Linked DNA regions of Homo sapiens: all the other regions are linked to region 1. Evidence: fine-mapped expression QTL. A gene starts in region 1. Each other region holds a variant in brackets. All regions are shown on one strand. Distances are between the middles of the regions.

What was found.
Region 2: its variant is fine-mapped to the expression of GLI4 in whole blood (TOPMed, PIP 0.94).
Region 3: its variant is fine-mapped to the expression of GLI4 in atrial appendage (GTEx, PIP above 0.99).

Annotation. Positions count from the first base shown.
Region 1 is chr8:143,266,286-143,269,038 of GRCh38, reverse strand. GLI4 (GLI family zinc finger 4) reads right to left here and starts at 1,594. Exons shown (of 4, transcript NM_138465.4): 1 at 1,555-1,594. RefSeq lists an enhancer at 1-578 and silencers at 1,139-1,258, 1,419-2,128.
Region 2 is chr8:143,236,852-143,239,604 of GRCh38, reverse strand. No RefSeq gene overlaps it. Among named protein-coding and RNA genes, the nearest start is that of ZFP41, 8.7 kb to the left of the region's middle. The variant C/T (reference allele first, on the strand shown) is at 1,577.
Region 3 is chr8:143,225,051-143,227,803 of GRCh38, reverse strand. No RefSeq gene overlaps it. Among named protein-coding and RNA genes, the nearest start is that of GPIHBP1, 13 kb to the right of the region's middle. The variant C/T (reference allele first, on the strand shown) is at 1,339.

The DNA of each region.
Region 1 (2,753 bases):
AACCCCATCTCTACTAAAAATATAAAAATTAGCTGGGCGCAGTGGCGGGCACCTGTAATCCCAGCTACTTGGGAAGCTGAGGCAGGAGAACAGCTTGAAATCAGGAGGTGGAGGTTGCAGTGAGCCGAGATGGCGCCCCTGCACTCCAGCCTGGGAGACACAGCAAGACTCAAACAACAGCAGCAGCAGCAGCAGCAGCAAAGGAGTAACGCCTTGGAAGGCGCGCTTAGGAAGCAGCCACCGCCTGGGCGGCACAGCAGACGCCTGTGGGGGCTGAAGCGAAGCTCCTGTCCCAGCAGAGGCTCTGGCATCTCCTTCCAGCCCGTGGCATCACCCCTCCCCCAGAGAAAGGCATAGGGAGTCTTCCAGAAAAACCTCAGCTGCTGGCCCTGTGGGAGGGCTGAAAACCGAACCATGCCTGCTGCGCATGAGTGTTTTGGAGGAAATCTTAATAAGGTTTTTCCCGAACAGCAGAGAAGAGACGTTTCCAGAGGGCAACTCTCTTCCTCAGACCCTACAGAGCCCTCAGAGACTGCAGGCTGGAATCCCCTAGTCCAGCCCTGCAGCAGCACTGGGAGACTCACTCAGGGCTCCAAGACACTTCTTAGTTTACTTTGCAAAAACGGCTTGAGTCCAATGTGAAAAGTGACTTTTCTTTCATACTGTGATAGAGTAGGAACTCCTAATCTGGGGCAGGGAGTGAAGAAAGGAACGGGAAAAGAGGACAAAAGTTAACGGATACTCAGATCTAAGAACAGCAGACAGTGCCTGCTTCGAGGAAGTGGGAGAGGCAGCTCCCACACGGCCGCCACCCCAGTGCCCGGCTTCTGGGCCAGCCTCCATCCCCTAATGATGGGAAGGGTCAGGTCACCAGGTAGGTGGCCACTGGGTGCAGGTCCTCCACCCTGAAGTCACATCTCAAGTTACTTAGTTAACTTACTGGGGACACCTGGTAAAAGGGCCTGCTCGATCACCCCGACCCTGGCTTGGCCCCCAGGACTGAGCAGAGGCGACCATCACAGCGTGGACGCCCCTTCACCCCCAGGGACGCACAAACTCTGAGCTCCAGACTGAAGGGGGAAGGGCACTCCTGCCAGCGGCTCGGGGGAAGCATCCTCTGCCCCTCTGTTCCCAGCCCCGTGGGAGCGGACCCAATCGCCGGGAGCTCGGCACAGAGCGCGTCCGCCCGGCGGTGCGGCGCTGGGGTCCGGCGGCTCCTCGCTCCGGAGCGGCGGGACCTCCGGGCCTCAGTTTCCCATCTGCAGAGTGGCGATGACGACAGCTGCCGTCACTGGGTGCCTGGGAAAGGCGCCCTGCGAACGGACACCCGCTATCGCCAGGGCCGCTGGGCGGGGCGGTCCGCTGCTGCTCCGCGACCCCCAGGAGCCCACCCCGCTCCCCGGGCTTGGCCCAAGGCCAAGGTCACGGCGAGCGGCGGCTGCAAGGGCCGCACGGCCCGGCTGGGCAGGGCTGCACCGCGGAGTACGGCGCACGAGCTCGGACTGGGCTGGTCCCAGGCACCCGGAGCCGCCGCCGCCGCCCGCGCCCACTCACCTTCCGAGCGGGAGGAGGACGCCGCGCGCCGGACGGAAGTGTCCGGCCCCGCCCCACTCCGCCCGGCCGGCGCGCACTTCCGGGACGCTCTGGGCCCCGGGAGGACCGCACGCCTCGGTGGCCGTGTGGGGGCGGGGCCGGGAGCGAAGAGGAGGCCTTTCCCCGCCCCTCCCCTCGTGGGCTGCGCCCGCGCGTGGCTTTCGCGTACACGCTGGCCCGGATCCCGCCCGCGCCTGCAAAGCGCCCGGGCGCGGGGAGCGGCGCTGCGTGGGGCGCAGAAGCCGGCGCCTCGGAGCCTCCTTCCCGACGCCGGCCCTGCACCGCCCGGGGAGCCAGCGCGGGGCCGGGCTTCGGGAGATGACGGCGCCGTCCCCACGCTGCCCGCGGCCCCTCCGTGCACTCCAGGCCTCCGGGGGTCCTCGGCTGGAGTTGCTTCCACGTTCAGCTCGCGAGTCCCCCCCGCCGCCCTCTTGGGTTCCCTCCTCGGGATGTGTCCGCAGCGATGGTCACCGGCGGCCGGGAACCGCTGCGAGACGCGCGACCTCCCGCTCCCCTCGCGGGGGCCCCAGCGCCCTCGATTCTGCCTGCTTTCCAGGGGCGTCCCCGGGAGCCTGAGGAGGATGTTACAGGTTCCCCAAAGCCCCTTCATGGACTCCTTCCTCATTTTCCTCTTGTTCAGCCACAGTTTCTCCCTCAGTTCTGTGCTTACGACCTGAAAAGAGAAAATTGTCACTTTCTGGGAAAAATAAACGGCCGGGGAGGGTTCTTTGACCGTTTTGAGCAGGGGTGCAGAGAGCCGAGGCGAGGGGACCCCTGAGCTGGAGGGGCACGCGGAGCAGAGGGCGGGGGGGCCTGCAGACGGGCAACAGCTGCCAGGGTGGACGCTCAGGGCTGTGTGGGTGGAGGAGCCCCCAGGCTGATAATATGTAAAAATCTCTAAACTCTACCGCAAGAAAACAAACATTCCAGTTAGAAAATTGGCAAGAGCCGCAACAGACGTTTGACCGAAGAGGGCACAGGGATGGCAATAGGCTCGGGAAGGGATGGCTGTCAGGGAAGGGCCGGCCAGCATCGCGGTGGGTGCCACTGCACACTTGCCAGGTGGCTCAGGTAAAAACTGCTAACAAGTGCCAAGCATCACTGAGGTCGCGGAGCAGCTTGGGACATCGCCAGTGGTAAGGCAAAGTGGTGCTGCCATT
Region 2 (2,753 bases), 29 kb after region 1:
TCTAAAGAAGAAAAAAAAGTGAGTTTTGATCCCAAGGACATTCCAGTCATACTAATGGATCCGTCAGGGTTGCATCAGAGGAACAGAGCCCACAGAGACAGGTGTGTAGACGCAGGCCTGCGCTTTGCTTTGTTCCAGGGCTTGGACCTCCCAGGACTGTGGGGCCTGCTGAGCGGTGTGCTGGAGCCTGGATCCACAGGCAGGCGCCCAGAGTCTCGGACAGCAGGTGGGATGGAGCCAAGGCAGGCGGGTCTGGGTCTGGATTCCAACCCCTGCACCCCACTGCTGATGTGGGCAAGCTCCTCAACTTCAGATGCCCTCAGCGTTCCCACCCGCACGATGTTCAGATGCCCTCAGTGTTCCCTCCTGCACAATGTTCAGATGCCCTCAGCGTTCCCTCCTGCACAATGTTCAGATGCCCTCAGCGGTCCCTCCTGCATGACGGGGTAGGAACAGGATCTCATGGGATCTTCAATGAAGACCAAATGGTGTGAAGATGGAGGATGCCCAGGATGGTGTGGGGCATGGCAGGGCCTAGGGAGTGCCCAGGTCTTCCCTGCCTGGCGGGACAGCTGCTACCTTGGTTTTCACGCCCTTTATGGCATTGGTTCCTAAACCTGCTCATAATCAGAATCAGTTTGGAATCTTTTTAAGAAAAAAAAAAAAAAAAAAAGGGATTTCCAGACATCATCCAAGAGCTGGTCAAACAGAATGCCATTGGGGTTAAGCCTCATAACCTGTAATTTTAGAAGCTTCCCAGTGACTCTGATGATCAGGCAGGGCCTGAGTGGCAGCAGATGGCACAAGCTCCCTGGTGCAGTGGGGCACAGCTCGGGCTGTTCATTTGAAACTCCTAAGAGCTTGGAGAAATGCTGACCAGTCCCCCACCTCTAAGAGATCCCACTGTAGCTGGGGTAGGGGCAGAGGGGCTGGCATCTAGCATCAGCGTTTTGAAAAATCACCCCCAGATGATTCTTGTGTGTGGCCGGGGTCCAGAATCTCTGTTTTGGAGCACAGGCGAGGAGACCGCGTGAACAAGTGAACCGGTGAGGCTTTTGCATGCAGAGCAAGCAAGAGACACAAAAATGTCAGGCCACTAAGCAGAATCATTCTTCCATGAAACCCCAGCTCCTTACCTGTGAGCACATTCCTTAATTATATGTCACACCAATTTAATTGGAAAAATTAACACCCGCCCCTCGGGCTTATAATCTATGACAAGACATTGGTGGTAAATCCATTTATTCTCCAATTACGTAATCTTTCCCATGTTCACCCACTAACGGACTCACTCAGAGGTAACTTATCCAGGGTGGCACAGGCTGGGCAGTAGAGGAAGCTCCCTTCCAGCATAAACCCACTCTCTGAGCTAATTCTAGAACTTACATGGACATACCAAAAGGCTGCAGTTTGTCCAGCTCTTCCACGCTACATTTAAAAGTCCTTTCTCAGGATCATTGCAAGGTTTCTTTTTTCTTTCTTTTTTTGAGACAGGGTCTCGCTCTGTCACGTAGGGTGGAGTGCAGTGGCTCCATCTCTGCTCACTGCAGCTTCAACCTCCCTGGGTCAAGCGATC[C/T]TCCTGCCCCAGCCTCCTGAGTCGCTGGGACCATGGGCGTGCAACGGCATGCCTGGCTAATTTTTTCATTTTTTTTTTTTTTGTAGAGACGAGGCCTTGCTATGTTGCCCAGGCTGATCTCGAAACCCTGGGCTCAAGCCGTCTGCCTGTCTCGGCCTCCCAAAGCATGGGATTACAGGCGTGAGCAGTACACCTGGCCAGGGCTTCTTCCTGTGCAAATTATCTGTGTGGATTCTCTGGTGTTGGTAACAGGTTACCTAGACCTGAACGTTTCTGTGAGTTCATTGCACTCACTGGGTGAATGTTCTCCCCTTGGGATTTCACGGGGTTTCTCTGCAGGATGAATCTCCTTACGTGGACTGGGGTCTGAGCCCCTCCTAGGGCACTGCCCACCCATCACATCAGGGTTCTTTCCAGGATGAAGTTTATGATGTTAAGTAAGGCAGGGCAGGCAAGAGGAGCGGGCCCCAGGTAGGGTATAAGGGCATCTGCCGGCCTCAGGCCAGCCCTGGGAAGCAGGTGCATGGCCTGGCTTGGAGAGTCCCCACTTCTCACTGCCCATTCAGTTGAACTCCTAGAAGGGGAAGCCGAGGAGCTGGGTCCGGGGTGGGCAGAGTCCTCTCACCCCACCGCTGGTCCACCTAGAGCAATGGCTGCTGGGTGCCCAAGGAGGCCCCTGTCGAGCTGGTCTTCTGGGAAGCCAGAGAGGAGGATGTGAGGGCTCTGGGACCCGTGGGTCCTAACTAGGGGTGAGGATTCTACTTTAGGGTCGTCAGAAGCCAGTTCTGATGGTCAAAATGAAAATGAAAATGGAAAGACACCATTCACAACATCAAAGGCATAAAGTAACTTGGAGTAAACCCAACAAAACATATGGAGGATCTTCATGGGGAAAATTATACAGTGTTTTTGTGAGACATTAAACAAGACCCAAATAAATGGTGATAAAGCCCAGGCTCGTGAATTGCCTGACTTAATATTTTTAAAATATCAGCTCTCAATTTCACCTTACAGATGCAATGCAATTCCGGTCAAAATCCTAGCAAGACTTTTGTAAACTTGAAAAGCTAGGCTGGGCATGGTGGCTCACATCTGTAATCACAGCACTTTAGGAGGCCAAGGCAGGAGGATCACTTGAACCCAGAATTTTGAGACTAGCCTGGGAGCATAATGAGAC
Region 3 (2,753 bases), 41 kb after region 1:
GGCCCAGGGCAGGGGTGGGGCCCAGGTATTCTGGTGCCACTGGGCCAGGTCCCATGGGTCCAGCAGGGGATGGAGCCTGAGGTCAGACCTGGGTGCCGGTGGTCCTGCTGCTGGCCAGGTCGTGGTGACAGCTGAGTCTGGAGGAGGCAGAGGCACCATATGGAATTAACTAGAAGCTCAGGTCAGTGGCGCGTGGTGCTCGCCGGCACTGTCCGTGGTTCTGAAGGAGACCGAGTGGGTAGGCATGTCTTGCCTGGGGTGCAGAGGGTCCTGGAGTCTTGTGGGGCTCAGACACAAGGTCAGAGCCCAGGTGCCAGCAGGCAACCTCTGGCCTGGCTGTTAGGTGGCCTGGGGCTGACCCCACACTCATTCCTGTCATATCGCTCATCCTCACATCCTCCCAGGCATGACGGCACTTCTCTCATGGCACTGGCCTCTCTGTGCCAGCACAGTCACCTCCATAAATTAAAATCCTGTGGATGCAAAGTCACACACAGCCCCTTCCTCTCTGCAGATTCTCTTTCACTGCAGTCTCTGTCTCTTTCTTTTATTTATTTATTTTTAATTTTAATTTAATTTAATTTTATTTTTTTGAGAGGGTCTCAGTCTGTTGCCCAGGCTGGAGTGCAGTGGTGCAATCCTCACTCAGTGCAGCTTCAACCTCCTGGGCTCAATCGATCCTCCCACTTCAGCCTCCTGAGTAGCTGGAACTACAGGCCTGCGCCACTATGCTCGGCTAATTTTTTTTTTTATTTTGTAGAAATGGTGTCTCACTATGTTGCCCAGGCTGGTCTGGAACTCCCAGGCTCAAGTGGTCCTCCTGCCTTGGCCTCTCAAAGTGCTGGGATTACACGTGTGAGCCACCACGCCCGGCCACTGCAGTCTTAACAACAACTTCAGAACCTTCTTCAGAGAGCTGTGCCTGCACCGGCCTGCCCTTCAGGAGCTTCCCACCAACTGGGACACTGGGCAGGACCCCAGGCGGCAGCAACATAAAACTGTGAGCTGATGGGTGCAGGACAGAAGGAGCCTGGGGGTCAGAGAAGGATGGAGAGGGCAGGGCAGTCAGGATGCTCACTGGAGGACAGAGGAAGCAGGCAGAGCCCAGAATTTGGAAAACCCTGGGAGAGGCAGCCCTGTGCTCCGGAGCCGAGAAAGCTCCTTGAATCCTGGCTCCAACAGGTCTCCTCACAGCCTCCGCATTTTGCAGAATGGAGTGCAACAGCAACCTCACAAGTTGTGTGGGATTGCATGAGACCGTCACAAAGACCCAGCCTGGGCCTGGGACGGGGGAGCCAAGGTGAGGGGTGCTAAGTCCATACAACGATGGGGCAGGAG[C/T]GTGCTGCGGGGCGGGGCACTGGCCTGCAAGTTGGGGGCCCCCACGTCGTGTTGTGAGGAAAGTTGCATCACTTGTGCAACCTTTGTGAAAACAAAAAGCTGAGTCCTTTCCTCTGCCTGGGCCTCAGTTTCCTCATTCAGAACAGGAGGGGCTTTTGGGTCAGGAAGGTCTAAAGCATGGGGCTTGGGCTGGGGAGAGAAGTCCAGGGCAGAGGTGGGGCTGGAGTATGGAAAGGCCCTCGGGGCCCTTCATACATATTCCCAAAGCACCCAGGAGGGACTTCAGGGGGACCAACTGCATGTGGGGAGGCGCAGGATGCAGGGGGCCAGGCAGCTGGGCACCCCCTCCTCCAGGCAGGCCTCCCTGTACCACACGGCTGTCTCCGCTTGTGCCTGTGTTTACCAGCCTGGGCTTTGTGGGGTCTGGGATGTTCTCACTAAGATGCGTCTCCCCCAGCCCCAGCCCCACTTCCCACATAGTGCCTGGCACAGAGTTCTGGGAAGGTTTGTGGAATGAACCCGGGAATGACTCACGGGCACCGCAGTAGGGGAAGCTGGGGGCAAGGGGGGCCTCCCTCAGGGCCATGCTGTCTCCTACCACCACCTCCTTGCTCCTGCGGCTGACATCCCAGATCCCGGACCTGGGCGCCCACTCACCTTGGTCCAGCATGGAGCACCCTGCCCAGCACCCCAAGGCCTGCTGGGCTGCGGGGGGCTCCCAGTCTCTCCTGGAAGCCCCACCCCTTCCCAGTTGCTTCTGCGCTGCCTTCCCGCCCTTCTTTCCCTGACTTCAGTGCTCAGTGGAGCGTCACCTCCCTGGAGGCCTCCTGCAAGCCCCAGACAGGAGAGCAGGGGCCTAGTTGCTGTGGGGATTCAGCCACATACATCTTTTCTTTTATTGACATTGACTCTTCATTACAGAATTAGCATGCCTGCCGAGAAGATCCAAATGAAAGAGCAGTACCTCAAGTGAGAAGCAGCGCCCTCCCCACTGCTGTCTCTGAAAGCAATTCCCAGGAGTTTGCTCCCGCTTCCAGACAGTTTTCTCTGCCTATGCAAAAGCACATGTTGAAAACAACAATTTGTTAAAAAAAAAAAAAAAAAAAAAAAGGACTGAGCCTGGTCGCTCATGCCTGTAATCCCAGCACTTTGGGAGGTGAGACAGGAGGATCACCTGAGGTCAGGAGTTCGAGACCAGCCTGGCCAACAGGGTAAAACCCCAACTCTACCAAAAAACAAAAAAACAAAAATTAGCCCGGCGTGTTGGTGCACGCCTGTAGTCCCAGCTACTCGGGAGGCTGAGGCAGGAGACTTGCTTGAACCCAGAAGGCAGAGGTTGCAGTGACCCGAGGTCACGCCACTGCACTCAGCCTGCGTAACAGAGAGAGACTCCGTCTCAAAAAAAAAAAAAGAAA